Regions from separate parts of the Homo sapiens genome. Here regions 1, 2 and 4 are each linked to region 3. The links come from fine-mapping of genetic effects on gene expression. A gene starts in region 3. Each other region holds a variant in brackets. All regions are shown on one strand. Distances are between the middles of the regions.

The links. PIP is the estimated chance that this variant, and not a neighbour inherited with it, causes the effect.
Region 1: its variant is the best candidate, but not a certain one, in a credible set for the expression of PRR5 in whole blood (INTERVAL, PIP 0.88).
Region 2: its variant is the best candidate, but not a certain one, in a credible set for the expression of PRR5 in whole blood (TOPMed, PIP 0.62).
Region 4: its variant is the best candidate, but not a certain one, in a credible set for the expression of PRR5 in whole blood (TOPMed, PIP 0.70).

The regions. Positions count from the first base shown.
Region 1 is chr22:44,663,757-44,671,344 of GRCh38, reverse strand. It overlaps LOC124905132 (a long non-coding RNA gene), which reads left to right and starts at 2,762. Exons shown (of 3, transcript XR_007068127.1): 1 at 2,762-3,014; 2 at 3,676-3,761; 3 at 6,346-7,588. It also overlaps a transcript of PRR5 not described here. The variant T/C (reference allele first, on the strand shown) is at 3,730.
Region 2 is chr22:44,673,580-44,681,167 of GRCh38, reverse strand. It overlaps a transcript of PRR5 not described here. Among named protein-coding and RNA genes, the nearest start is that of PRR5, 25 kb to the left of the region's middle. RefSeq lists an enhancer at 866-1,762. The variant T/C (reference allele first, on the strand shown) is at 4,138.
Region 3 is chr22:44,699,156-44,706,743 of GRCh38, reverse strand. PRR5 (proline rich 5) reads right to left here and starts at 4,540. Exons shown (of 8, transcript NM_181333.4): 1 at 4,136-4,540. The coding sequence starts at 4,269. PRR5-ARHGAP8 (PRR5-ARHGAP8 readthrough) reads right to left here and starts at 4,540. Exons shown (of 15, transcript NM_181334.6): 1 at 4,136-4,540. The coding sequence starts at 4,269. RefSeq lists a silencer at 4,257-4,666 and an enhancer at 6,915-7,455.
Region 4 is chr22:44,739,407-44,746,994 of GRCh38, reverse strand. The region is part of intron 4 of PRR5-ARHGAP8 (PRR5-ARHGAP8 readthrough); the gene reads right to left. Among named protein-coding and RNA genes, the nearest start is that of ARHGAP8, 9.4 kb to the left of the region's middle. The variant G/A (reference allele first, on the strand shown) is at 2,853.

The DNA of each region.
Region 1 (7,588 bases), 35 kb after region 3:
ATGAGGGCTGTCTTGTCACCAAGAAGCCACCTCTTTGTTCAGCTAAACCATGTCTTCATGATGGCCCAAGATTCTGATTCACATTTCTTGCCTCTAATCTAAGAGATGGCTGGTCCTGTTCAGCGCTGGCCCCCTGCGGCCCCCCTCTGGGCTTCAGGATGAGGGTCTTGAAGCAGGATGCCCTGACCCTGCTGTTTGAGCCTGTGGGTGACCCACACTGCCATCTGACCCGGATAGCACCACATTCACACAGCATCAGTAGCCTGTCTGTTTCTGCCTGGGTTTTTCTATCTTGAGGGGCCCTCCTTGCCATCTGTGGGGCCTGGGGAAGGTCTTCATGAATGAGTAAATGAATGAATGAATGAATGACTCCCCTCCTCTATGGGAGTCTCACGAGAGCTCTGTTCTTCTCACACATGTCCCAGAAGACGGTTTTGTTCACATCCACAAATGTCCACAACTTGCGGCACCCAGAGAGGGGCTGGTGTTCCTCTTTCCTTCTCGTCACCCACCCCTCCTGGTGTCTGCGCCCCTGACTTACTGGGCGTGAGCAGGAAAGCTGGCACCACACCACGCTGCCCGCCTCTGCCAGGCAGTTCTGTGTTACCGTCCCCAGGCCTTTTAAGCCATCCCTTAGAAACAAAAAACCCATTAGCTCACAAATGTTTCTGCACAGGCTGCTTTCCCTGCCGGTGAGGAATTAAGTCCATGCAAGTATCCCCATCGCCACCCAGTTAAAACAGCCAAGACACAGAAGTGCCAGCCCTTCTCACGGCCGATCCACCCACACCATGGTGTGCTTGCGACGTGGGGTACCACACTTCTTTGGACCTCCCTGACTGCCCCTGTGGGTGGATGAGTGGGGGTAATATGATGATCGCCAGTTTTCAGGTGAGTAACCCAAGGACCAGAGAAGCAAAGTGACTTGTCCAGGGCCACACAGCCAGCCAGTGCTGGAGCTGGGATCCTGACTCAGGCCTGCCGGACTTCACAGCAATCCCCGCCCCACGATTTAAACAAAGGGCTCAGAATCCCAGACTGTTTGGCAGGAAAGGTCCCTGGGGAGGCCATAACCTCCTCTGACTGCTGGGGGACTTGGGCTCCAAGAGGGGAGCGGCTTGCCCAGGGACACAGCAAAGTTGTAGACGCCAGGATGGGCCCTTCTTGGTCCTCTTCGCTGTCCGCCAGCCGGAGGAAGGTAGATGACTTTGTCCCCCTCATCCGATGTTAACACCAAGCGGTGCTCACACCTGAATGTGCATTAGAATGACGATGGGGGACTTACAAAATGCAGATTCCTGGTGCCCCCTTACCAGCTCAGGACAGGGACCAGGAATTGACATTTTATCAAGCACTGTCATCAAGGAGGATGATCTGGGGGTCCAGGACCTCACTTGGAGAGCCCCAGCTTACCCCCAGGATTCTGGAGGCTGCGCCGAGTGCAGAAGGCCGGAGGGGCCACAGGGAGGCGCCCTCCCGCCTCCAGATCCAGTCCAGGGAATGGGACTCACCACTCTCCCACCAAGAGCATCACTCATCACCTTGCAGCTAGGCCACCCCACACGGTCCTCATGGCCTCTGTCCACAGATGTCACTCCCACCCATGCCACTGGTAGGGAAGTGGAGGCCGCTTGGAGGAAGTGACCCAGTCGCTGGGACCACATCTTGTGACCTTTGGACATGGGACCCTCCCCCAGCCTTCTACCTTGGCTCTGGTGGAAAAAATCTTAGAAAGCGTCAGGCTCTGCTTATGGGAACAGGGTCTAGAAATCCATCTGATTAGGTCAGAGGCGCAGACCCGTGGCCAGGCAGACCTGCCCAGTATCCCCACCTGCCAAGGGATGGTGAGGGTGTCTCCCCAGGTTCTGACCTTACAGACCACTAAGCGCTCCAGCCCTGGAGTCTCTGTCCCGGGGTCTGCCTGCTGCCTCCACCTGCCCCCACCCACTCTGCAGGGCCAGCTACCAGCCAGGAAGTGGCTGGAGGCCCAGGCCAGAGGCCAGAGCGGTGGGGGCCACAGGCTGAGCCAGGACAGGGCTCAGAAAGGAAGGGTCCCCCATCCTCGACCATCTTTGTTTGCCCTATTAGGGGGAGCAATGGCGAGGGAGGGGAGAGCTGCCATGGGGAGAGAGCGGTGTCGGGGAAGGAGATGGGGACACGGGGCGGCTGGACGGAGACCCACCCACAGAGACGCGGACAAACTCAGAGATAGAGGGAAGGGGGCGGGGCGGGGGGCGAGCGAGAGAGGCTGGGAGAGAACGAGCTCGGGAGGTCCCGGGAGGCTGGGGTGGGAGAGGCTGGACCTTCACCCAAGGGGGCCGCCCCTGCCCCGCAGATTCCGTCCGACCCCTACCCCACCCTAGGGCCCCGCAGTCGGCGTCGCGCGCGCGCGCACCTACGCGCGCACACACACGCGCGCGCCGCTCCGCCGGCACCGCCCCGGGGCCCCCCCTTCCGCAGGGTCGCGCGTGCCGCCCCCCAACCCCAGCCACCCGGTCCCCTCTCCGGCCGGGCCTCCGGACCCGTAGCCGCCGCTCACCTCGGTCCCCGCGCCGCCGCCGCCGCTGCCACCGCGCAGAGCCAGAGCCGGAGCCGGAGCCGGAGCCCGGGGCCGGGGGAGGGGGCCGCGGAGGCCCCGCCCCGCCCCGCTCCGCCGCGTCCCGCCCCTCGGGCCCGCGCGGGGGCGCCCGCAGCCGCCGCAGCCCCCAGGGACTCGGGGCGCTGCAGGGGAGACTCGCCTAAGTGCGGCAAGCGGGTCCGCGGGCACGCCCACCCGGGTCCGCCGGAGCTGGGGGGCTGGCGCTTGGGCCCCCTCCCGGCCTCCGCCCCTGAGCACTGCGCAGGCTGTGGGCGGCGCCCGCCGGGGCAGGGGGCGTCCCGGGTCACCCGGCGGCCCGGATCGGCCCGTGACGCCCTCACCCCACCCCTCGGCGGGCCGCAAACGTCCAGAGAGCGCCCCCTCCCCAAGCCCCGACCTGAGCGGGGCGCTAGAAGCCGGGAGGACAAATCAGACGGTCAGACTCAGTCCCTGTCCCGGGGATCGGGGTCCAGCCGCGGGCGGAGCGGGGAGGGAGGGGAAGACGAATGGGCCTGGCACCAAAAACAGCCCAGGGCTGTGGTTCTCAAAGTGTGGCCTCCGTTAGTGCAGAGTCCCTGGCCCCACCCCGGACCTACAGAAGCAAAACTCGGGGTTGGGCCCCCTATTTTAACAAGCCTTCTGGGTGGTTCCAGAGTTCAGTAAAGTTTGAGAAGAACTGCCCTGGTGGAAACATCCAGCACCCCACATCCTGCACCCCACAACCCACATCCCACACCCCAGTGTCTCGAAAAGGGCTTCTTTTCACTCTTCACTTAAACAGCCTCACCCTGTTTAAGTACCTCTCCGTTGGTACGTGGCTGTGGTGGGGGCAGTGGGCGGGGAGCAGTGGTGTCTGTCCCAGGAATCCCCGAAAGGATTGACAGTCAGTGCCTGGTAGAAGCCGCAAGTCCTGTACCAGAGGCCAGGCTGTGGGCATTCGGGCGGTGATGGTTATGGTTATTGTGTTTTGGTGTAGTGATTGTTTTAATGTTTTAGAATGCAATTGTGCAAATATTTGTGTCCATATTCAGTTGTAAAGCTTTTTTTTTCCCCTTCCATCATTGTGCTTGTTTGACGCTAAGCCACTCATCCCCCAGAAACAGTGTTGACATGAGGCAGATCAGATGGCCGGCCTTCCTGGTGACCAGATT[T/C]CAGGACAGCAAGCATCCCGGCCAGACCCCAGGTACTCTAATGGGGTCCATAGGGCCCTGGGAGTGAGCAGCTCTGCCTGAACTGCAGGATGGGGCATCCTAGAGGGAGGAGAGGGCATCTGGACAGAGGGGCCTAAAGTGTCTGGGTGGCATCTAGACTGGGCAGACAGTGCCTGGATCGAGTACTGGGGTGGGGCTGGAAACGGCCCAAGAGGTGCCAGAAGGAGGTGGAGCTGTTCTGAGCCCCGTGCTGCCAAGAGGGATGTCCTGGCCTTGGAGGGACCTTTGAGGTCATCTAATCCAGCCTCTTGGTGTGTGACCACTAGGACCTCCCCCACTTCTAATTAAACTTTCCTTCTTTCTTTCTTTTTTTTTTTTCTTGAGACCGAGTCTCGCTCTGTTACCCAGGCTGGAGTGCAGTGGTGCCATCTTGGCTCATTGCAACCTCTGCCTCCTGATTTCGAGTGGTTCTCCTGCTTCAGCCTCCTGAGTAGCTGGGGCTACAGGTGCCTGCCACCATGCCCGACTAATTTTTGTATTTTTAGTAGAGACAGGGTTTCACTATGTTGGCCAGGCTGGTCTCAAACTCCTGACCTCAGGTGATCCACCCGCCTGGGCCTCCCAAAATCCTGGGATTACAGGTGTGAGGCAGCACGCCCAGCCTAAACTTTCTTATTTTGAGATAATTGTAGATTCACATGCAGCTATAAGAAACAGTAGAGATGTCTTGGACCCAGTTTTCTCCACTGGTAAAATCTTGCAAAATTATACTACAATATCACAACCAGGATATTGACATAGATGCCATCAAGGTACAGAACATTCCATCAGCAAAGGACCCCCCCGTGGACTTTTTATGTGCTTATCTCCCTCCCTCCTCCCTCCTGGCAAGCACTTATCTGTTCTCCATTTCTGTAATTTTATCATTTCAAGCATGTTATATAAATGCAGTCATACAGTATGTTACCTTTTGAGATTGCTTTTTTCACTCAGCATAAATCCCTGAAGATTCTTCCAGGTTGCTTTGTGTTTCAGTAGTTTGTTCCTTGCTATTGTGGAGTGGTCAGCATTCCATGGAATGGGTGCATCATAATTTGTTTAGCCATTCACTTGTCGAAGACTATCTGGGTTGATTGCCAGTTTGGGGCTATTACCAATAAAGCTGCTATAAACATTTGTGTACAGGTTTTTGTGTGAACATAAGTTTTCATTTGTCTGGGAAGAGTGCCCAGGAGTGTAATTGCTGGGTCGTATGGGAGTTGCATGTTTAGATTTTTAAGAAACTGCCAAAATGTTTTCCAGAGTGTACCACTTTGCCTTCCCAGCAGCAAAGCTTGAGTGATCCAGTTTCTCTGCATCCCTACCAGCATTTCGTCTTGTCCCTGTGTTTTATTTTTGCCATGCTGATAGGTGTGTAGTGAGATCTCATGGTTTTAATTTGCCTTCCTCTAACGACTATTGATGTTAAAGATTCAAAACGATCTTGAGAGCTTATTTACCATCTGTAAATCCTATGAGTGGTAGGTGTGTTCATGTCTTTTGCCTATTTTCTAATTGGATTTTTTTTTTAAAAAATGTTCATTAAATTTCTTTCTCTCTCTCTCTCTCTCTCTCTCTCTCTCTCTCTCCCTCTCTCTCTTTTTTTTTTTTTTTTTGATGGAGTTTCACTCTTGTTGCCCAACCTGGAGTGCAGTGGCACAATCTTGGCTCACTGCAACCTCTGCCTCCTGGGTTCAAGCGATTCTCCTGCCTCAGCCTCCCGAGCAGCTGGGATTACAGGCGCGCGCCACCACATCTGGCTAATTTTTTGTATTTTTAGTGGAGACAGGGTTTCACTATGTTAGCTAGGCTGGTCTTGAACTCCTGACCTCAGGTGATCCTCCCACCTCGGCCTCCCAAAATGTTGGGATTGCAGGCGTGAGCCACGGCGCCCGGCTGGTTATTTCTTTATGGTGTAGTTTATTCAGAAATTCATGAATTCCCTGAGAGAGAGGAGAGTTGTCTCTTTTCTTCCCCAAAGTATCTCTGGGTGTTTGGAAACAGTCTTTGGCACGTATTAGAAGGTGGCTAATAGGTATTTGTTGAAAGAATCAGTGAGTAAATGAATACATGACCCCATGGTGCGTGGTTCTGGCCACGTCATTTGTGGCGCCCCCTGCTCCCCAGATCCATTCACTGCCTACTTTGTGCTCCCTGAGGCTGACCTGGGTGGACGGCATCCCCCACCTGGTTACATTTGACCCATGGAGGCAGTTGCTGGAGATCAGCCGGAGAGAATGAGGCATTTCTCCTCTTGCCCTCTGCTGACCCTTGCAGTCCCTGCGGGTTGCATGCTGACCACAGCTCTTTCCCGGATGCTCTGCCAGGCTTTAGCTCCACTGGCTTCCGGGGGAAGCACCATTTCCTTCCCTCCCTTCTGCAGCCCCAGGGCTGGTAGCAGCTTCCCTCTTTTGCTGGCCTCTGGCTCTCCCTAACCTGCCCACGCCTCTGTGAACATGAACCACCTGGTCAGCTCTGCCTTCTGCTGGGACCCTGACTGTAACAGATAGATATCATTATTATTATTATTATTATTATTATTATTATTATTGAGATGGAGTCTCGCTCTGTCACCAGGCTGGAGTGCAATAGCGTGATCTCGGCTCACTGCAACGACTGCCTCCTGAGTTCAAGGGGTTCTCCTGCCTCAGCCTCCCGAGTAGCTGGGACTACAGGTGTGCACCACCACGCCCAACTAATTTTTGTATTTTTAGTAGAGACGGGTTTTACCATGTTGGCCAGGATGGTCTTGATCTGTTGAACTCGTGATCCGCCCGCCTCAGCCTCCCAAAGTGCTGGGATTACAGATGTGAGCCACCGTGCCCAGCCAACAGATAGATATTATTGTTGCCACTCTACAGAATTGGAAACTGAGGCTCAGAGAGGTTATACATCATGCCCAGGACCACACAGCAAGTCCTGACAGAGCCAGGGTTGAGCCCAGGCTCCCTGGCTTGGAGCCCATGCTGCTGGCTTTCAGAGGGTTTTGAGCTCTTCTCCTCTGAGGGGCCCAGGACTGGGGTCAACATGAAGGTGCCTCAGGTGACCCAGAAGGCAGCTGAGACCTGGACCCCCTCAAAGGCACGCGGGTGCCTGTCATAGCTCTGGCAGTGACCACGAGCCCATTGGCCTCTTCCTCCCTGTGAGAGCTGAGCATGTCTCTGGGGCCTGGCAGGAAACCCAGCCTGTGTGTGTTTCTGCTGCTCAGTCACGTGAGACTGTGGGAAGCTGCTGGGAGGCTCAAGTGAGGCCCCTGCCCCAGCCACAGTGGCGGCCTGACCTCACATTTCCTTCGCTTCTTCTCTGAGTGAGCAGATGTGGCCAGCACCCACCACGTGCCAGGACCGTCCTGACACCCTGAGGGCGAGGGGGGCACCGTGGCAATGTATCGGAGGGAGAGGGCACAGGCTCTGCAGCTTGAATACTAAGGCTGAGTCCCTTCTTGAGGGACCCCAGGCTCCTTGCTCCTGCAATGGGGACCATTGCACTTGCTAATTTCACATGTTTATCCTTTCATTTATTTGCCTATCCATTGGTGGATGGAGCCGTTAAAACATAGTTAATGAGCCTTTGTTTATAGCCTGCAGCTAAGAAAAGAGCTCTGTGAATCTAAAGCCCTGTATGAAATGTAGTTCTCTGATGGGGGCGTCTGGGTACCTCCCACCACTGCCCCTGTGTAGCCTAGGCCAAGAGGGCCTTTGGTGCCATTGAAGGACTGAGTGAAAACCTGACTTGTCTGAGGGCTCTGTGCACTGGGGGGCACCCCTGGACCCTACCCTGTCCCCTGTCACCATAGTCAGGGAGACAGGCCCGACAGTGC
Region 2 (7,588 bases), 26 kb after region 3:
TTCATGGGCTGGTGTCATTTGAGCCTCACACAGAGGCCAGGAGAGGAGGATCAGCACCTCAGCTCTGCAGATGCAGGGGCCGAGAGAGAAGAGACACAGGAACCACTGGCAGCACAGTAGGGTGAGGAAGGCAGAGCCGCTGCCGTGCTAGTCTGGCAGACAATCGTGGCCCTGGAATGCCAGGGTCCAGTGAGAGCTGCATGATGGATGCATGAATGTGGAGACCACATTGTAGTCCGACCCTGCTCTGTCCGGGTCCCGCAGCCTGTGCCCCAGGTCTGCCCTGCCCTGCCCCAGGTTCTCAAATCCCACCTTGGCTCCTTCCTCTGTCACACACTGCCACCACTGTGTCACCTTGAGTTCTTGGGGACTCTGAGCCTCTAGGCAGGCAGCTAGGCTCTGGCAGGGAGCCAGGAACCTGCCCTGGTGTGTGTGGGGGGGTCTCAGGCCAGATGTCCGTCCCCTACTCTCCCAACCAGGGGATCTGCAGCTCAGAGAGACGTCCCAGCCCACCTGCTGTGGTGGGCAGGCATGGGAAGATGCAGCAGCTTCCATGGGAAAGTCGGGCACCCAGGGTGGGGAGGACAAAGGCTGGCGAGTCCTGCTGTGGGACCTCCATGGAGGCAGCGCTGCCACTGCTGCGGCTCTGGGATGCCCACCTCCTCGCTGGGCTGTGGCAGGACCCCTTGCTGCCCCACCAGGCAGGGACCAGCCCTCCTGTTAGGTTCAGATGCTCACTTCTGTCCCCATCCCCCATCCTTCCCCATCCCCCCTTTCCTTCCACTAAACGTGCACTTTAGGGTGGGGGAGGGACATGCCATTCCAGGAGCTGGACCAGCATTTTCTATACATCCTCACAGGAAGCCACGGGGCAGGTGCTCTTCTGCCCATTTCAAAGATGAAGTATCTGAGACTCAGAGAGGTACAGCAAACTGTCAAAAGTTGCACAGCTGGATAGTGGTGGAGCTGGGACTTGAACCCTGGACCCTGTGACCCTAAAGGGCCACATCAGTATCTGTGCCCTACGGCCCCGAGCACCCTCCATTCTGAGAAACGTTTGTTGAGTGAATAAAGTAGAAAGCCCCAAATCACAGCAGCTCCCAGGAGGGACTGACATCACTGCTCACCCCACCAAACACACTCACTCAGGCTGAGGTCCAGCCCTCATTCCCCGTGGGTCTCTCGCCGTCCTACTCACCTTTCCCTAAGCCTCCAGCCACACTGCACTCACCCTCACCCATACACCTGCCTCCCTCGTAGCCACCCTTCGGCACAGTGGCACCTGTACAAGCCCTCAGGCTGCGCCGGCATCTTTTCCGGGCTTCCCGAGCCCCAGGCTTCCCTCTGTGAAAGTTCCAAACACACCATGGCTCTATGTCTTCTGACCAGCCTGCCCCATCAGACTGAGTGTCCCAGAGCGGGGAGGCTGAGTCTTACTATTATTGTTATTATTATTATTTTGAGATGGAGTTTCGCTCTTGTTGCCCAGGCTGGAGTGCAATGGGGCGATCTCGGCTCACTGCAACCGCGCCTCCTGGGTTCAAGTGCTTCTCCTCCCTCAGCCTCCCGAGTAGCCGGGATTACAGGCATGCGCCACAATGCCTAGCTAATTTTTTTGTATTTTTAGTAGAGATGGGGTTTCTCCATGTTGGTCCGGCTGGTCTCAAACTCCTGACCTCAGGTGATCCACAAGCCTTGGCCTCCCAAGGTGCTGGGATTACAGGCATGAGTCACTGCGCCTGGCTGAGGCTGTGTCTTTGTGGCAGTTGCCCCCCAGTGTTACTGGGCTCTCAATGCACGCTCGAAGTCACTGAAGGGACTCTAAAAATTTGAAAAATACAAAAAGGATGGAAGAAGAAACAAACCACCAAAGAAATTACTGCTCCCCATCTCGGTACATTTCATTTAGGTCTTTTTTCTGTCTGTGTGTTTGTGGGACACCACTGTGAGCATCCTAAGAACACAAGCCTGCTCCTGCCTGCCTCCCTCGCATGAATAAATGCTGCGTTTGCAGAATGGACCTGGGGTGGCCGCACGTATCTCCTGAGGCCTAGGAGAGTGGGGAGTCACTCAGGGTCACTCAGCTACAAGGGGAGAGGCTCAGACCTGGAGGCCAGTGCTCCTGACCCCCCAAGGCACTGACTCCCATGGCAGTCTCTTTCAAGGCCCCAGAAATCTTAATTTTCCACTGTCCAGCTGACCATCCATCATCCCAGGCTTCCTCCTGTCCCCTAACGCAGGTGCCCTGATGTCTGTCGCTCACTCGTGCTCTCAATTCATCGAATGCTGCTGGGGTCCCACTCTGTGCCAGCCCCCAGCTGAGCCCTGGGACCCAGAGATGAATCACACAGAGCAGCCCCAGGCTGTCGGGGAGACCTGGGAACAGGGCAGAGAAGCTCTGTATGACAAGCGCTGGCCCAAAGGCATGAGCAGAGCCCAGGGTGAGATGGCACTGAGGGGGCCGTGGGTCCGCCTGGCCTGCGGTGAACAGGAGGCAGCCAGGAAGACTTTCTAGAGAAGGATGCCTTCCAGCAGCGGCTTAAAGAACTAGCAGGCAGGGCGCGGTGGCTCACACCTGTGATCCCAGCACTTTGGGGGGCAGAGGCGGGTGGATCACCTGAGGTCGGGAGTTCGAGACCAGCCTGGCCAACATGGTGAAACTCCATCTCCACTAAAAATACAAAAGTAAGCCAGGTGTGGTGGCGGGCGCCTGTAATCCCAGCTACTTGGGAGGCTGAGGCAGAAGAATTGCTGGAGGCAGAGGCTGCAGTGAGCCGAGATTGCGCCATCGCACTCCAGCCTGAACAAGAGTGAAACTCCATCTCAAAAAAAAAAAAAAAAAAGAGCCAGCAGAAGCCCAGCAGGTGAAGGACGACAAAAAAAAATCAGACTAGGCATAGGAACAGCAGGAGGAAGGCCCAGAGGAGAGAAGGCTGAGAGTGAGCAGGAACAGACTGCATGTCCGGGCAGGTGGTGAGCGGGTGCAACAAGGGCCCAGCCAGGACTGGGCATTGGAGATGACCCGACCATCCACAGGGTTCCCATCAAGAGCCCGCATGCAGCCCGCTCCCTCTCACAGCTGCTGCACGCGTGACTCTGGGTACCAGCACTTCCCTTCAGAACTCTAAGCACCTTAGGCAAAACTTCCACCTTAAAACCAGCTGGTCCTTGAGGCCCCCAGCACCAGCTCCCGGTTATTTCCTGGATGAGCCAATGCAAAGCCTGCCAGGGCCTCTCTGGAAACTGGAGCCGGTGCAAAGGATGATCCGTGCCCACAAGCTTTGGTGGATGTGAGGCCGTGAGAAAGAATAAGGACACAGGTGTGATCCTTGCTTGCTCAGAGAAAAAGCCAAGTTTATCCTGAATTCACAAATTAGAGACCGAGGCTCAGAGAGGTGAAGCAACCTGTCCAAGGTCACACAGCATGTGAGCAGGCCCAGGCACTGAGCCCACCCCTCTGACTCCCCTCACCGTGGCATAAGCTCCCCTAGGGAAGGTCCATCTGACATGTCCCCCGCTGGTCCCTGGAGCCTTGAGCGCTGGCCCGTGGCCAGGGCACCCAGAATGTTTTTTATGAATGAGTGAACAAAAGAATCTGAACCCCCTGCCCTTCGTCCCACCCCATGCAGCAGTAGGAAGAAGCCATCTGCTACTGTTTTTTGTTATTGCTGCTACTCTAAAAATCGAAAGCACAAACCCAAAGTCACAGCACTGTGTCACATCAGGGCGGACAGACACCCTAGTCCTGATTCAGGGCTGAAACGGAGTGGGGCTCCTCCGGGGCAGGGGCACACAGCAGGGTCTTGGACTCAGACAGACCAGGGCCAAACCTCTGCTCGGCCGCTAAGCTATGAGACCCGACACGCCGCACCCCCTCTCCACGCCCAGGCGTCCCCACCGCTAAAACCAGACGCAAAGAGTGCCTACCTTGCTGGGTGCCGAGAGGACTCAGGAGGTGGGATGCTGCCAGGGTGGGCACAGGTGGAATCCCAGCCCACGGGTCTCCTCTGCTCTGCGACCTTGGCTGAGGTCTGCACCCTCCTGGGGGTGAGCTCTGAAACCCTGCTCAGCACTAAGCACACTGGATGCCTGGCCTTGGGGGCAGCCGAATGGCTTACACATTAGGAGGCGTTCACA[T/C]GGCCAAAGGGCAGAGGGGGCCCAGGAGCTTGAGGGCAGGCGGCTCACTGGGCTCCCCCATGACTCAGCAGAACTCAGGCTGCAGGCTCGGGTGGGAGCTGCCCCCGACTGCACCCTATGCAGGGAAGCCCAGCTGCTGGCTGATAAATATTTTATCACTGCTCACAGAGCAGTCCCCAGGAAGGCGCCTGCATCCTCCAAGCCCACAGAGCACCCCTTCCTGCCCGGACAGAAGGAACTGGCCAGGTCCAAGGTACAGGGTGGGGTCAGGAGCCCAGACAGCTCATTCCTGCCCTGCCGACTTCAGGTAAGCTCAGCACACGCCCCTGAGCCCCACCCACACTCCACTCTGCCCTATGTTGGGTGCTGGGCTCCGACTGCTATGCCCCTTGGACAGCCCCCCTCCTCCTCTTCACCCCGCCTAGAACACCAACCCTCTGCCTGTTGGCCCAGTCGAACCCCCCATCCTGCTGGCCCAGGGCCATTGCCGCCTCCTTTAGGAAGCATTCCTGGATCCTCCATTTCTGCTGTGTGACTGTGGGGAGGGCCATCACACTCTCTGAGCCAGTTTTTTCTTTTTTCTTTTCTTTTCTTCTCTTCTCTTTTCTTTCTTTCTTTTTTTTTTTTTTTTTTTTTTTTTGAGACAGGGTCTCACTGTGTTGCCCAGGCTGAAAAGCAGTGGCGCAATCACAGCTCACTGCAGCCTTGACCTCCCGGGCTCAGGTGATCCTCCCACCTCAGCCTCCCGAGTAGCTAAGACCACAAGTGCATGCCACCATGCCCGGCTGACTCATTTTTTTTGTACTTTTAATAGAGACTGGGTCTTGCTATGTTGCCCAGGTTTGGCTTAAACTCCTGGGCCCAAGTGATCTGCCCGCCTTGACCTCCTAAAGTGCTGGGGTTACTGACATGAGCCACTGCGCCCAGCCTTCTTTTTTGTTTTTGATTTTTCTTTTTCTTTTCACTTTCCCAGGTTCAGTAACTTGCCCATCTGAGCCAGTTTCTACAATGGAGCTAAGGATCCCCGCTCATGGGGGACAAAATGAGATTGTGCCAATCAAGTTCTCCCAGCACCTCGCCCACACAGAGACTCATTCTATTTGGGGGAAACCGAACATCAGGAATCAAATCATAAACATGACTGATCGTGGCTAGGAGTGGGGCACAGGACTGCAGAGAATCTGGCTCCTGTCTGCAAGGATCCACAATTTAATTAGGATATGTGACCTAAGTAATAATAATAATAATAATAATAATAATAATAATAACAACAGCAACAGTAACAACAGCCACCGAGTTTTAAGCCCCACCACATGCCAGACACTTCACATCCCATCTCCTCGTTTACTCCTCCCAGAACCCCTAGGATGTGGGTTGCTTCTTGCTCCCATTTGACAGCAGAGCAGGAAACTGAGATGCAGGGAGGGTGAGAGCCCTGCCTGGGGTCACACAGCTTTCCACGTCATTGTGCATGTGGAGGCCCCACTGAAAGGCGGGCTCCAAGACAAATGACAGAACAGCCATGGGACAGATACTGTGCAGCTGCTGAAAACTCAGCATGACTGCTCACGAGCTCCTGGGCTGCTTAGGGACAGGGAAGATGCTCACGATATTACACCGAGTGAAAAAAGCAGAACAGGCCAGACGTGGTGGCTCATGCCTGTAATCCCAGCACTTTGGGAGGCCAAGGCAGGAGGACAGTTTGAGCCTAGGAGTTCAAAACCAGCCTGGGCAACGTGGCAAAACCCCATTTCTTTCTTTCTTTTTTTTCTTTTTTTTTTGAGACAGCGTCTTGCTCTGTCACCTGGGCTGGAGTGCAGTGACGAGATCTCGGCTCACGGCAACCTCTGCCTCCCGGGTTCACGCCATTCTCCTGCCTCAGCCTCCTGAGTAGCTGGGACTACAGGCGACTGCCACCACGCCCGGCTAATTTTTTTTGTATTTTTAGTAGAGAAGGGGTTTCACCGTGTTAGCCAGGATGGTCTCCATCTCCTGATCTCGTGATCCACCCGCCTCGGCCTCCCAAAGTGCTGGGATTACAGGCGTGAGCCACCGCGCCCAGCCTCTTTCTTTCTTTTTTTTTTTGAGACAGCGTCTTGCTCTGTCACCTGGGCTGGAGTGCAGTGGCGAGATCTCGGCTCACTGCAACCTCTGCCTCCCAGGTTCAAGCAATTCTCCTGCCTCACCCTCCTGAGTAGCTGGGATTACAGGTGTATGCCACCATGCCCGGCTAATTTTTGTATTTTCTAGTAGAGACTAGGTTTCACCATGTTGGCCAGGCTGGTCTTGAACTATTTTTTTTTCTTTTTTTTTAGACGGAGTCTCTCTCTGTCGCCCAGGCTGGAGTGCAGTGGCGGTCTTGGCTCACTGCAACCTCCGCCTCCCGGGTTCACGCCATTCTCCTGCCTCAGCCTCCCTAGTAGCTGGGACTACAGGCGCCTGCCACCACGCCCGGCTAATTTTTGTATTTTTAGTGGAGACGGGGTTTCACCGTGTTAGCCAGGATGGTCTCGATCTCCTGACCTCGTGATCCGCCCGCCTCAGCCTCCCAAAGTGCTGGGATTACAGGCGTGAGCCACCGTACCCGGCCTGGTCTTGAACTCTTGACCTCAGGCGATCCACCCATCTCGGCCTCCCAAAGTGCTGGGGTTACAGGCATGAGCCACCGTGCCTGGCTGCAAAACCTCATTTCCACACACAAAAAATAAAAAATAAAAATAAACCCAAAAAACCAAAAACAAAAAACAAACGAAAACACTGGCAGGGTGTGGTGGTGCGTGCCTGTGGTCCCAGCTACCCGGAATGTGGTGATTGTGCCACTGCACTCCAGCCTGGGCAAAAGAGCAAGGCACTGTCTAAAAAAAAAAAAAGAAAAGAAAACAAGAAAAAAGCAGGATACAGAACCGTAGAGCTGTAGGTGTAGTGCTGCAATGACACTGTGCAACAGGACTTCTACCTCAGAACAAATTGACTGGAAATGAATATGTTTAGGGAGAAAGGCTGCAGGCAGAATCAGAGCCCGTTCTCCAGACTCTGTCCAATATGGCGATGTTGGTTTTATATTTAAAATTTCCCTTAGAAAGAGGATTTGTCCACCCCAAGGCTTTATGAGCAGCTACTGTCTGTCCTCTTTGTTGAGCATTTTACTCCTCTCTCAGCCTCAGGTTTGGCCTGTGGAAGGCATGAAGCAGAACGTGGGCCCACCCTCTCCCAGCCATAGGTAGATCTCCTGGCCCCTCCATCACAGCAAAGCCAAAGCCACGCTCAGGATCTTCTCCCTGTCTTCCCTTTCCACAGGGGGTCTATTTACCAAGGACCATCACCGCCACCTACCCAAGCCCTAGACTATCAGTCATAGGGGCTTAGAGAGTAGTGAGCTCCCCGTTATTGAGAATAATCAAGTAGGGAGCCACACGTCTATCCACCAAGAAGTGGCCACAACGGATGGCTT
Region 3 (7,588 bases):
TCAGCCTGGGCAACATGGCGAAACCCTATCTCCACCAAAAATACAAAAAAAAAAATTAGCCGGTGTGATGGCACACACCTGTAGCTACTTGGGAGACTGAGGTGGGAGGATCGCTGGAGCCTGGGAAGTCAAGGCTGCCTGAGCCATGATTGTGCCACTGTACTCCAGCCCGGGTGACAGAGCAAGACCCTCTCTCAAAAGAGAAAAACCAAACATTTCCTGCACACCTACAGAATCAACATCCATGGAGGAAAGAATGGAAGGCAGACCCCAGCGAAATGCTCAGCACTCCAGGGCCCCTGGTTTGCTTTCCTCCCAGCACTAAGCCCACCTGCATTTACTTACCTCCTTGTTTATTTACCAATGCCTCCCTCTGGGAACTCTAAGCTCCAGGAGGCTGTTCTCTGCTGAATCTATGCCCTGAGCAGCCCAGTGCTGGCACAGTCAATGAATGAATGAATAAACGAATGAATGAATGAATCAATCAATCAATCAATGACTCAGTTCTCATGACAGAGCAAGCCTTACACTTGATGGAAATAGGGTCTTTGCAGCGGTATTTAATTAAGGACCTGGAGATGATCCTTAACTAAGGATGGGCCCTAAATCCAATAACTAGTGTTTTTACAAGAGAAAGGGGAGGGAGCCTGGTGTGGTGGCTCATGCCTGTAATCCCAGCACTTCCGGAGGCTGAGGCAGGCGGATCACCAGAGGTCAGGAGTTTGAGAGTAGCCTGGCCAACACGGTGAAACCCTGTCTCTACTAAAAATACAAAAATTAGCTGGGCATGGTGGCATGGTAGTGGGCGCCTACAATCCCAGCTACTTGGGAGGCTGAAGCAGGAGAATTGCTTGAACCTGTGGGGGCGGAGAATGCAATGAGCTGAGATTGCACCACTGCACTCCAGCCTGGGTGACAGAGTGAGACTCCACCTCAAAAACAAAAACAAAAATTAGCTGGGCATGGTGGTGCACGCCTGTAATCCCAGCTATTAGGGAGGCTGCGACAGGAGAATCACTTGAACCCGGGAGGTGGAGGTTGCAGTGAGCTGAGATTGCACCAGTGCACTCCAGCCTGGGTGACAGAGCAAGATTCCGTCTCAAAAGAAAACAAAAAAGAGGCTGGGCACGGTGGCTCACACCTGTAATCCCAGCACTTTGGGAGGCCGAGGTGGGCAGATCACCTGAGGTCAGGAGTTAGAGACTAGCCTGACCAACATGGCAAAACCCCGTCTCTACTAAAAGTACAAAAAATTAGCCGGGCGTGGTGGTGGGCGCCTGTAATCCCAGCTACTCCAGAGGCTGAGGAAGGAGAATTGCTTGAACCCAGGAGGCAGAAGCTGCAGTGAGCTGAGATCACACCATTGCACTCCAGCCTGGACAAGAGTGAAACTCCGTCTCAAGAAAGGAAAAAAAATAGAGAGAGAGAAAGGAGAGGGAGATTTGGACGTGGAAATGAAAGCCATGGGGAGGTACATATTGGAGTGATGCAGCCACAAGCCAAAGAGCCACCAGAAGCTTCAAGAAGCTCCTCCCCTAGAGCCTCTGGTGGGAGCGACACCTGGACTTCAAGCTTCTGGCTCCAGAACTGTGAGGGAACAAATTTCTGCTGTTTTAGGCCACCGAGTTTGTGGTCTTTGTTACAGCAGCTCTGGGAAGCTAATACAGTCACACAGATAAAAGGGGGTGTGTCTTGGACTCATAATGAGGAGTACACGGCCAGGCCCTGCAGAATGACACGCCTGTCCCCGACCCTGCACAGATCTGTTGTCCTAGGGGGCCCTGGCAGGGAGCACCGCTAGGAGCAGGAGCATGCAGACAGGGACCAGAAGGGGTGCCCTGCTCCCTGCAGTTTCCACTCAGGGACTTGGCTGGTGAAGCCAGTTTGCCTTCTCTTGGCTCCATCTCCCACATCTGCTGGGGAGGAGAGCTGGGGCGCAGGCTCTGCTGCATCCTGTGCAGGTGATGGATGAGCTGGGCATGTCTCCTGGGTGCTCTCTCTGCCCTTCTGCATCTCTCGGTGGGGGGTGCTGGTAATACCTCGCTGGGCTAGGAGAGTGGCAAAGTCAGTTAAGGGCAGTGAACGGGGCTGGCCTGGGGCCTGGCACATAAGAGGAGTGCAGGAAATGGCCGTGCCCCTGCTGCCTGGGGTGGTGGGAGCTGATGTAGGCCTAAGGGCTGGGAGACCTGGAGCCCTGCAGGTGCCGCGGGGAGGGGCTGGCATTTCTCTGCAATCTGCCAGGCTGCTGAGTGAAATCTGGTGGGGCGGGGGTTGCTCAGGCAGAGTCCCCCTGAGGCCTCCCTGAACTCTGAGAAGACACTTGAGACTCAGAGCCCACTCCAGGGTCACCCAAGGTTGGGTGAGGGCAGTGTCTAAGCCAGCAACCAGCCAGTGCCCCCACCTGTCTGGGGACCCGCAGCAGGACGCCCCACCTCGGGGGTGGGAGGGAGCTCACCAAGTGGCTGTCAGTGGGTGCTCAGGAACTGACTGATTCCTGTGGAGCCCTCCAAATGCCATCCCTACAGGGACACCCCGACACTGGTCCACTGCGTGAGTCTGGGGTTGAGCTGTGAGGTACAGAGGACTTACTATGTGCTAAGCACTGTGTTGAGGGCTTTATTTTGCATGTTCAAATTTCATCCCTACAACAGCCCCATGAGGTGGGCACTGTTATCTGCCCGTTTTATGGATAAGGAAATTGAGGACCTGACTTGCTCAAGACCACAGAGTAGGGAAGAGGCAGAGTTGGGATTTGAAATAAGTCTATTTAACTCTTTCCTCTAAATCACGGCAGAGATTCAAGGACAGAGAGATGGCTTTCATCTCAATACTGGAGGAGAACACTGCTCTTCTTTTTTTTTGAGATAGGGTCTTGCTCTGTCACCGAGGCTGGAGTGCAGTGGTGGCATCATGGCTCATGGCAGCCTCGACTTCCCTGGCTCAAGTAATCCTCCCATCTTGGCCTCCCAAAGTGCTAGGATTACAGGTGTGAGCCGCCGTGCCTGGTGGAGAACACAGCTCTTAAGACACTGTGCAGTCGTTGGGTCAGGGAGATTTCCCAACAGGAGTCCTTCCTTCACTGTTCCCACACCAGCCCTCCCCACAGGGAGGAATGCGAATACCCACTGACGGAGAGGGAAACGGAGGCAGGCATGTGACAGCCCTCTAGCAGTTTGCAACTCAGAGACAGAAGAGACCACGTTTGAAGAGGGTCTCGCTGGCAGCCCTGAGCCCACCATGACGCTCACAATGCATTCAATGAACTGAAAATAACGTGTGTCCAAGTGACAGCCGGGTTCCCGGTGGCCAAGACCACAGCCGGTGGAGCATCTGGCAAGATTTTACTGCCAGGTGTGGGCGCGAGAGGGGCAACGTCCACAGCCTCCCCCGAACAGTGTCCACAGCCTCCCCCGAACAGTGTCCACTGCCTCCCGCGAACAGCCTGCCTCACTTTCTCCTGCCTCTCATTTTCCTAGGGAGCAGAGACGCTGGGGAGTTCCACTAAATAAACCGTCTCTTTTCCAGATCCCGGACTTGCTCCTCAAACAAAGCTGGGAGAAGGGGCTTCCCAGGCCCCTGCTTGTCTGGGAATGACCCCTGGAGGAGAGTCCTCTAAAGAATGCCTCGCAGCTGCCGCACCCCCTGCTGACAGCTGGAGGACAGGGGGCCTCTCAAGGGAAAGCCGAAGGGAGCTTAAAGAGACACAGGAAGCCTGCGCGACCCACCCACTGAGCCCCGAGGCTCCCGTGCTCAGCCGCAAAATGGGAAAAATACTTCCTGCTCCGTTAGCCTCCCAGGTTGTCACGAGCACCGCAGTGGAGACGTGGAAAGACCCCGGGTAGGAGGCGGGCACGCGGCTTCCCGGCCCACCCCGCCGCCCACCCGCCGGGCGCTTCTGGGCCAGCCCCGGGCGCTGGCGGGCCTCGCTCCCTTCCCTGGGTTCTGGAACCACGCTGCACTGAACTTTCCTCCAGGCCCGCACCACTCCGGCGGGGCAAGTTCTTTGCAAACTGTGAAGCGCCGCGCCGCCTTCGGCAGCGTTCCTGGCTCGGGGCGGCCCCTAGCCCGCGGACGGCTCAGGGGTCCCCTCCCCCGGCTCCAGGGCCTCCGGGTGGCCGGGAGGGCGCGGCCTTACCTGTTCCAGGTGGCGTTGGCGCAGGCCCGGCGCTGCTGCGTGCCCCGCTCGTCCGCGGCGGCGGCCGGCTCTCTCTTGCCCAGGTCACTGAGGCTGGGCGAACTCATGAACTTCAACCTGCGGAGAGTCCTCATGGTGACCCGGGCCGCCTGCGCCGCGCCCACGCGCGCCCCACGCCGCGCCCTGCGCCACGCCGCACCAAGGGCCCCGGGCCGGCGATGCGCCCTCTACGCGGAAACTCCGGCGAGAGCAGGAAGCCGAGCGGTCCTGCGGGGTCCCGCCCCGGCCCCGCGCCTCCGTCTCGGGTCCCGCGCCGGCCGCCCCGCCGGGTTAATCATTGCACGGAGAGGCTCAGCGTGGAGCGCCAGGCGCGCGGCCAGCACAGACCCGGCGCAAACGGAGGCCGGGGGCGGACCCGGGGGCGGGCCCAGGGGCGGGTCTCGGCGCCCCGGGGGGCGGGGCGGGGAAGGGGGCGGGGGCATCGCGGGCGGGGCGGGGCCTCAGGCGAGGGGGCGTGTGCAAGAGGCGGAGCCGGCGTCTCCGCGGCCGCAGCTGCCACGACGCCTCGCTGGGTCTGCCCTCTGAGGACGTGCTCACCCTCCTCCCCTCTTCCGAGGGCCCCACGTGCCCACAGGAAACCAACACGCACAGGACGCAGGGCCCAAGCCCAAGCGCCCGCCCCCCGCCCAGCACTGCGGTCGCGCCCACACGATGTCCTTCGACCCCGGCCCCGGAGGTCTCCCTCCACAGCCCTCCTCGCAAAGGCTGTGCCACAGAGGTGCCTCCGTACCCCTCACCTGAACACAGGCTCCCCCACCCAGTTCTCATGAGGACTTTGGGTAGAGGCCTTCAGTCCCCTCCAGGCACCTTGGCCCAAGAACCCACTCCACCCGGGCTCAGCCTAGACCCCCTTGGACAGGGACTTCAGCATTGCCTGGCTGCCTGGAGGATTTGCTGGAGTGAGGGCTTGAAGAAGTAGAGGGTTTGCTCCTTATCTCCCACCCCCAGGTCTCTTGGATGGTAAAACCAAGCAGTTTCCCAAGTCCCTGTGGTGGGGGCAGAGTGATCCCAGTGAAGGCAGGGCACAGCCGGTGCTTCCTGCCTGCTTCGCAGAGCACTTTTAGATGTCTGATTTCACATGAACTAACATGAACTACTTCCGTGAGGTAGAGATTATTCTTCTCCCCATTTTCCAGTTGAGGACATTGAGGCTCACAGAGTGAAATAACTTGCCCAACATTGTGCCAACATTGTGCAATCAACAAATGGTAGAGTTGGGCTTCACCACAGGGAGCGTCCAGCCCCTTGAACAGGGCCCTTCCCAGTCCCCAGCTTCTGGGATTCCCACAAGGCTCACCTGACCCCTCCATCAGATGGGGGGTGACAGCCACAGCTCCAGGAGCTGGGAGGGCCCCATATAAAATGTAAGAGAGAGGTGATGGCTCATGCCTGTAATCCCAGCACTTTGGGAGGCCGAGGTGGGAGGATCACCTGAGGTCAGGAGTTCAAGACCAGCCCGGCCAACATGGAGAAACCCCATCTCTATTAAAAATACAAAATTAGCTGGGCGTGGTGGTGCATGCCCGTAATCCCAGCTACTCAGGAGGCTGAGACAGGAGAATCGCTTGAACCTGGGAGGCAGAGGTTGCAGAGAGCTGAGATCTCGCCACTGCACTCCAGCCTGGGCAACAACAGCAAAACTCCGTCTCAAAAATCATCATCATCATAATAAAATAAAATAAAAAGTAAGAGAGCCTCATGAAGAGTCTTTGTTTAGTGCAAATCAACCAGTGTCTCCTGAGTACCTCCTGTGTTCCAGACATAAATACCATCGTCTTTGGGAGACAGAGACATAAACAGACAAACTTGCTCATCAGTAAAGCGGGATGGAACGGTTCATCTCACAGGCAGCTTGGGGCCCACAGGCAGCAACAGGTGCTTTATAAACTAACTGTCAAGTGCTGTACACGTTTTCTTTTCTTTTTGAGACAGAGTCTCACTTTTTGGCCCAGGTTGAATGCAGTGGCACCACTGTGGTCACTGCAGCCTCTACCTCCTGGGTTCAAGCAACCCTCCCACGTTAGCCTCCTGAATAGCTGGGACTACAAGGCATGTGCCACCATGCCTGGCTGATTTTTTGCGTGTGTGATGGCGTTTCGCTCTTGTCGCCTGTGGAGTGCAATGGCGCAATCATGGCTCACTGCTAACCTCTGCCTCCCAGGTTCAAGTGATTCTCCTGCCTCAATCTAGTGAGTAGCTGAGATTATAGGCACCTACCACCACGCCTGGCTGATTTTTTTATTTATTAGTAGAGATGGGGTTTCACCATGTTGGCCAGGCTGGTCTTAAACTCCTGACCTCAGGTGATCCTCCCACCTCGGCCTCCTAAAGTGCTGGGATTACAAGAATGAACCACTGTGCCCGGCTCCCTGGCTAATTTTTAAAAAATTTTGTAATAGAGACAAGGTCTTGCTATGTTGCCCAGGCTGGTCTCAAACTTCTGGACTCAAGGAGTCCTCCCACTTTTGGCCACCCATAGTGTTAGGATTACAGGCATGAACTACTGTGCCTAGCCCACGCTCTCAAACTTACGGGAACACTGTATCTTTTAGATCCCAAACCAAATTTCATGGCCAGACAAGGATTTCCTACCTTACTGCTGTAAAAAAAAAAACAAAAACAACAACAAAAAACATATAAAAATACTAAAGCATGTACTGAATTGTCTCTGAAAAGAATGAAAACAGAGGATAAAGCCCAGATCCTTGACTCCTCGGAGGGGCCTTTGAGACCTGCTTGCCCTCCAGCTGCGGGTCCCTCCCCTGCCCTAGAACGTCTTTCAGAGAAGTTAGTTGCCCCTGTCTCTGACCGCCTTCACTCTCAATTAGGCTCAGGGGGCGTCCTGTTGTCACCCGATGACTTTTTTTCCATCCTATGCCATAAGCCAGGAGGGCAAGAACCGTAACAACTTGTTCACTGCTACAGTCCCCGTGCCTAGCACAGACTGGGTGCTTCATAGATATTTGGTTTAACGGATGGATGAACATTTATCTCATAAGAATAAAGGGATTACATTGGACCCCACTGGTGAAAATGCCTCATAAAAGTGCCCAGGCTGGACAGATGTGAGCGAGAATCTCCGTCATGGCCACTGGTGTAAACGCAGCAAAGCAGAACCGCCAGGGATCCGGATGGGATGAAATGGTTTCCCACGCCGGAGGCTGGCTCTCAGGAGAGGACTGGCTTTGTGGGCTCAGCACAGCCTGGTCCCAAGCTTGCTGACCACAGGCAGGGCCTGGCTGGCAGGAGGGGCCAGCTCCAGAGAGGGAGGGAGGCCTGACTGCTTGGGATAAGAAATCAGAGAGAAATGGGCAGCCCGAGGTGGGAGGCAGGAGGAGGGAAACAGGGGGCTGGGAATGCTGTAGGCATCTGGGAGAAGCGGCCAGCCAGAAA
Region 4 (7,588 bases), 40 kb before region 3:
AATGTAAACATCTTTTATATTACCAATGTAAGATCCGGCCCTCATGAAAGAAGGGCAATTTGCAGGGTTTCTGTTTTAAAAAGCGACTTTGGACGGGAGTAAGGGAAACTCCCCCCGCAGTCGGCCTACGGCTGGCAGAATAATTTCACAGTATTAAGAGATGTCAGGGGAAATACCACCCTCCTTGCATTTGTGTTTTGTGAAAATCTCATACAAATTTCACCCCATAGCTTAGCGATATTAACATACATACAATAAAGCAACAATACCGAATGATTGTGTGGCAAAGAATGCAGGTGTGTTCTGCCATTCATAATCAAAGGAAAAAGAAATATAAAAGAACTGTACAACCCAGGCTGGTTCCCCTTTCAAGTTCTTTCTTCTGTTTTTTCCCAAGCACTGTTTAATCAGTAATCAACCAGTTAGCCATTTCCTTTTGTTGCTATCTCAATAACTCCTTGCATTTCAAATGCCTTGCGATAGAAAAGAAGGAATAATCATGCAAAATAAAGGAATTACATCTGAATGGTATTATTCTTAGCTTTATTAAATTTGCTCTTACAAATGTTTCTGAAGTCGGAGAGTTGGTTCTCCCCCAAGCAGCAAATTCCACATTAATAAGCGCTTGGGGATGGAGAATTTCAAGGAGGAGGGAATAAAAGATCTATGTCCAAGGTCTTGGGCTTCCCGTTTGTTTTCTCCGGAATTAACTCAGCCTGCCAGCTTCTTGAGCTAAGACTTGGCCTGCTTTTAACCTTATTAAAACCACAAAGCCAACACTACCCCCCAGTTTGGGTGTATGACTGCCAGGTTAGGGCAAAAGGGATGTGGAAGATCTTCTTCCAACCCTCTCCCTTTATGGGCCAGGATCCTGGGATCCAGTCGGTTAAGGGGCTTGCTTTATCCCTATGTAGCCTGGCCCAGAACCCCAGGCAGGTTCCCTGACCCCTGCCCGTCTACTACGTGCCCTGGTCCTGTGTCAGAGCAAATGCATTGTGTGGTTAGTACCGCCTGCAAACTGCCTCCACTGGGTTTTCTGCGATCTTTGGGTCCAATAATGGAAACCCTCCTGATTTGCAGCTGAGGTGGCCATGCTCCTGCTGCCCTGGTTGACAGCAGGGTGGACGCTGATCTTGTGCACCGACCTGCCCACCCCTCAAATGCCTTTACCATACTGGCACTACCGACCTTACAGACATCTCACAGCCCCAAGGTGGCCTGACAACGGGTTTACCCGGTCCCTTTGCCACCAGGGACCAGACAGTGACAGACTGCACCATTGTGATGTCCACCCTGAGAGAGGAGGCTGCCCTAGAATTCATCACCCAGCGATGCCCAGCTTGGGTGGTGAGGGAGGACACAGTGGCTACAAAGTGAAGTGCCTGGAACACAATGGGTATTGGCGCTGGTGGCAGTTGGGTTTGGTCCAGCGTAACTGGGGCATCTCTGTGTGTGGGGAGCATCTGTGCAGCAAGAGTATCCCCACATGATGGGTGCCTCTCTGTGCAGTGGTAGCATCTGTGCAATGGGATCATCTGTGCCGTGGGATCATCCCCATATGATGGGCGCCTCTCTGTGTGGTGGGAGTATCTGTGCAGTGGGAACATTTGTGCAGTGGGAGCATCCCCATATCATGGGAGCCTCTCTGCATGGTGGGAGTATCTGTGCAGTGGGATCATCCCCATATGATGGGCGCCTCTCTGTGCGGTGGGAGCATCTGTGCAACGGGAGTATCTGTGCAGTGGGAGCATCCCCATATGATGGGCGCCTCTCTGTGCCGTGGGAGCATCTGTGCAGTGGGAGCATCCCCATATGATGGGTGCCTCTCTGTCAGTGGGAGCATCTGTGCAATGAGATCATCTGTGCAGTGGGAGCATCTGTGCAGTGGGATCATCCCCATATGAAGGGCGCCTCTCTGTGTGGTGGGAGCATCTGTGCAGTGGGAGCATCCCCATATCATGGGTGCCTCTCTGTGCGGTGGGAGCATCTGTGCAATGGGAGTATCTGTGCAGTGGGAGCATCCCCATATGATGGGCGCCTCTCTGTGTGGTGGGAGCATCTGTGCAATGGGAGTATCTGTGCAGTGGGATCATCCCCATATGATGGGTGCCTCTCTGTGCCGTGGGAGCATCTGTGCAGTGGGAGCATCCCCATATGATGGGTGCCTCTCTGTGCGGTGGGAGTATCTGTGCAATGGGAGTATCTGTGCAGTGGGAGCATCCCCATATGATGGGTGCCTCTCTGTGCCGTGGGAGCATCTGTGCAGTGGGAGCATCCCCATATGATGGGTGCCTCTCTGTGCGGTGGGAGTATCTGTGCAATGGGAGTATCTGTGCAGTGGGAGCATCCCCATATGATGGGTGCCTTTCTGTGCCGTGGGAGCATCTGTGCAGTGGGAGCATCCCCATATCATGGGTGCCTCTCTGTGCGGTGGGAGTATCTGTGCAATGGGAGTATCTGTGCAGTGGGAGCATCCCCATATGATGGGCACCTCTCTGTGCTGTGGGAGTATCTGTGCAATGGGAGTATCTGTGCAGTGGGAGCATCTCCATATGATGGGCACCTCTCTGTGCTGTGGGAGCATCCCCATATGATGGGTGCCTTCCCCGTTCGGTGGCTGCAATGCTGCCGGTTTCCCATCAGGCCCACTGTCCTGTGGGGTGATTTGGGACACCGTTCCTGGAAGTGGGCTTGGCTCACCCACCTCATCACAGCTGTAGGAGCTCGCAACATTCTTCAATAAACTCCTTCTCTGCATGATCATTGGCATCTGCCTCGGCTGCTTGCAAATCAGAGCCCGCCTGATCCTGCATCCTCATATTTTACACTCCCCTGGCCTCTTCCCCTACCAA[G/A]CACAGGCTGACATGAATCCCCATCGTGAGAAGAGGAATGTCAGTATGAGAAATTCCTCTTGCAGATGATGTCAATGATAGTTTACATTTTTATAGCTTTTTACAGCCTGTGAGAGCAGTTCTGAGCTCTCTGCAAACACATCAGTCAATGAGAAGAAGGGTTCTTGGGGGTAAAACCATCCGTTTATTATTAAGCCATTATCACCTTCAGGTCAAAAACCATTAAGTACGCGTCTGCCCGATGCTTGTCATCTGCACAGAGCTCCTTTGTCAGAGATGTCTGGTGTCTGGAGTTTACAATCTAACAGCCCTGCTCTGCATGTGAGTCCACGGTGCACAGACAGGCAAAGAAACAGTGCTGGTCACTGATTTCATAGCTGGGGAGATCCTGGCTATAGATCGGGAAACTGAGGACAGGGCGACCTGCCCAATATCACACAGTGCCCAATTTACGATCAGATCCTGGAGGTCCTGGCTCTGCCCATGAGGGGTGTATGACATACATAAATATATACAATGAAATATCCCATGCTGGCCTTCTCCCCACTCAAGGACTACGTGATTCTAGGGTACTGGGAAGAAGGAGTGTAGCGTCAAGTCAAACCTGGTTGTGCCGAGCGACAAGCATCTCCCAATCACAGGGGCCTCCACCACCGTAGCCGGCCTTCTTATCCAGGCCACACGTCTACCTGCTGGAGCAGGCTTGCCTGGGACACTGCCAACCACCGTGGCAGAGGGAAGGACAGTCCTGGAGGGGCCTGTGTCTGGCAATGAAATCCTCCAGATCTAGAGCACCCCGCATCACTTCCACTTAGAACTCACTGGCCAGGGCTGGTCATATCGCCACCCCCAGCTACATGGGGACCGGAAAGAGCATCATAATTCTTAGGTGCTCATCTCCAGTCTGTGTCAGTTGCATCCCTGGCAGAGGCTCCTGTGCCTTGGCATCCTCCCTACTCCTCCCAGCGTTTCTGAGGCTACTGCCTGCTTTACTGCTGGACAGTCCTGGAGTTGGGGACCACGGTCCCCCGATGGAGTGCTGTGTCCCTCCACTCCAGTCTCAGTAGAGGGGCCAAGACGATCAGTTCACGCTCCCTGAGGAAAGCAGCTACAGGGACTGCAAGGAAGGAAGGAGTCCTTTCCTCTCTCCTTTCCTTCCTTCTCTATCTTTCCTTTCTTTCCTTTCTTTCTCCTTCCTCCCTTCGTCCCTCCCTTCCTTCCTTTCCTTCCTTCCTCCCTCCCTCCCTTCCTTATTAAAAAAAAATTAGCCAGGTGTGGTGGCATGTGTCTGTAGTCCCAACTACTCTGGAGGCTGAGGTGGGAGGATCACTTGAGTCGGGAGGTTGAGGCTGCAGTGAGACATGATTGTGATTATGCCACTGCATTGTAGCCTGGGCAACAGAGGGAGACCCTGTCCCCACTGCAAAAACAAAAAACAAAAAACAAAGTTGGCCTATAATTAAGACTTCTGGGTTGGCTGGGCATGGTGGCTCACGCCTGTGAAACCAGCACTTTGGGAGGCCCAGGCAGGTGGATCATGAGGTCAAGAGATTGAGACCATCCTGGCCAACATGGTGAAACCCTGTCTCTACTAAAAATACAAAAATTAGCTGGGTGTAGTGGTGCACGCCTGTAATCCCAGCTACCTGGGAGGCTGAGGCAGGAGAATTATTTGAAACCGGGAGGTGGAAGCTGCAGTGAGCCGAGATTGTGAGACTGCACTCCAGCAGCCTGGGCGACAGAGTGAGACTCCGTCTCAAAAAAAAAAAAAAAAAAAAAAAAAAAAAAAAAAAAAAAGGCTTCTGGGTCTATACCTAAAAGAATTGGAAGCAGGATCTCAAAGACATATTTGTACACCCGTGTTCATAGCAACATTCTTCACAACAGCCAAAAGGTGGAAGCTTCCTTCCCTCCCTTCCCTCTCTCCTTGGCTCCCCTCCCCTCCCCTCCTCTCCCCTTCCTTGTGTGTTTACTGTGGTAAAATACACACCATAAAGTGGGCAGTTGAGTAGTGTTAAGTCACATTCATGTCGCTGAGCAGCCGATCTCCAGAACTCTATTTATCTTGCAAAACTAAACTCGAATCCCATCGATGACTCCTTAAACCCCCTCCCGCAGGGTCTGGCGACCACCACTCTACTTTCTGTCCCCGTGGATTTGCCTATTCTGAACATCTCGGAATGGAATCATCCAGTATGTGGTGTTTCCTGGCTGGCTTCTTTCACCTCACATCAGGTTTTTTTTTTTTTTTTTTTTTTCTGAGACGGAGTCTCGCTCTGTCACCCAGGCTGGAGTGCAGTGGCACGATCTCTGCTCACTGCAAGCTCCGCCTCCCGGGTTCACGCCATTCTCCTGCCTCAGCCTCCCGAGTAGCTGGGACTACAGGTGCCCGCCACCACGCCCAGCTAATTTTTTGTATTTTTAGTAGAGACGGGGTTTCACCGTGTTAGCCAGGATGGTCTCGATCTGCTGACCTCGTGATCTGCCCGCCTCTGCCTCCCAAAGTGCTGGGATTACAGGCATGAACCACTGCGCCCGGCCTCACATCAGGTTTTTAAGTCTTATTCATGTTGTAGCATGTATCAGGACTTCATTATTATTATCATTTGGACTTCATTCTTTTCCGAGGCTGAAGAATATTCCCTTGTATGGATGACTACGTTGCATATCCATTCAGCTAACGATGGGCACTTTGTTGTTTCTACCTTTTGGCGGTTGTGAAGCATGCTGCTATGAACATGGGTGTGCAAATATCTCTTTGAGATCCTGCTTCCAATTCTTTTGGGTATAGACCCAGAAGTCTCAATTATAGGCCAACTTTTTTTTTTGTGGCAGGGACAGGGTCTCACTCGGTTGGCCAGGCTGCAGTGCAGTGGCGTGATCACGACTCACTGCAGCCTCAACCTCCCAGACTCAAGTGATCCTCCCACATCGGCCTCCAGAGTATTGGGACTACAGGCACGTGCCACCACACTTGGCTAATTTTTAAAATATTTTTTATAGAGACAGAGTTTCACCCTGTTGTCCAGGCTGGTTTCCAACTCCTGAGCTCAAGCAATCCACCCACCTTGCCCTCTCAAAGTGCTAGGTCCACAGGTGTGAGCCACCGTGCCTGGCTGTAAGCTATTACTTTCATGGTCAGATGGAAAATGACAAATGGGCCCACGCTTATTGTGGGCACCCCTTTGGCCTACACGCTTCCCAGTCCCTCTCTCTTCTTCTGGAGTCTTCCCTTCTCTGGGAGGGCCTTCGGCTGCAGGCATCTCCACCTTGGGACTCCTCCTCTTCCTCTTCCCAGGGCCAGCACATCCAGAGAGCATGTTTGCCCCCTACCTCGTGATTCCTGGGCCACAGCCCACCCAGCAGCACTTTCCTGAAACGGAGCTATTCCTTCTGGAGATGAATATCACGGGGTCCAAAGTGGGTGCTTGAGAGGGCACGCGGGGTGGGCATCAGCACTCCAATGGACCCGCCTCTGAGACCTCCTACCAGGGCTTAGCTGCTGTGTGGTGTATACTTGCACACACACACACACACACACACACACACACCCACCCATCCACTCTCGCGCGCGCGCACACACACACCCCCAAACACTTGTGCGTGCGTGCAGACACACACACCTACCCACTTACACACACACACACACACACACACACGGACGCCCAAACAAATCTGAGCTCTCAGCAGGGGTGCAGTCAGGGTCACTGGGAAGCCTATCGTAACCCACCCTGGGTTTTCCTAAGTGCCACCTCCACCCCAGACGCTGTCACAGTGCAGGTGAGGCTCACATGTCCCGGCAGGCCCACGGACCCCAAGGCGGGGCTGAAATGCAGATTTAGGGTCAGCAGATGGGGCCAGGGCCTGAGATTGTGCATTTGAGAGGTAAGGGGTAGAGCGTTCACGAGAATCCTGCACAAAACTTACAACAAGCACACAAAAGACAACAACGATAAAGCAGTTTCTAGAACCCCAGCCCTGGAGATGCAGAGGAATCCACCCCACTGGACACCCCGGTGATGCCGATGGTAGACCAACCACTAACTAATTAACCACCGATTTCACTCGTTTAACAAACCTTAGGGTGTGGAAGACAGAACAGCAAATGTTAAGAAGCCGTGTCTGCTCATTTCTGTTGTCAACATAATTTCATCGAGCCCTGACTGTGACAAGGCGCAGCTCTCCAGGAGGATGCCTTGAAGACCAAACAGGATGGAGCACACGGTCTCCCACGCCTCTTCCCTGAGTCACTCTATTCCTTAAAAGATAAATAAGGGCCGGGTGCAGTGGCTCATGCTTGTAATTCCAGCACTTTGGGAGGCCGAAGTGGGCGGATCACCTGAGGTCAGGAGTTCAAGAATAACCTGGTCAACATGGTGAAACCCCGTCTCTACTAAAAATAGAAAAATTAGCCAGGCATGGTGATGCATGCCTATAGCCCCAGCTACTCGGGAGGCTGAGGCAGGAGTATCACTTGAACCTAGGAGGCAGAGGTTGCAGTGAGATGAGATTGCGCCACTGCACTCCAGCCTGGGTGACAGAGCGAGACTCTGTTGGGATTACAGGTGTTTACCAATTTATAAGATGTCTGAATGCAGATCACCTCTGACATCTTTGGGAACAAGGCTAGGACACACACACACACCCTCTTGGTGGGCTGCTGCTTTCTGGGAGTGGGAGTGCAGCCTCCTCACCTCCTTGGGGCCCCCACTGAGTCCTGTGAGCTGCTGCAGGGC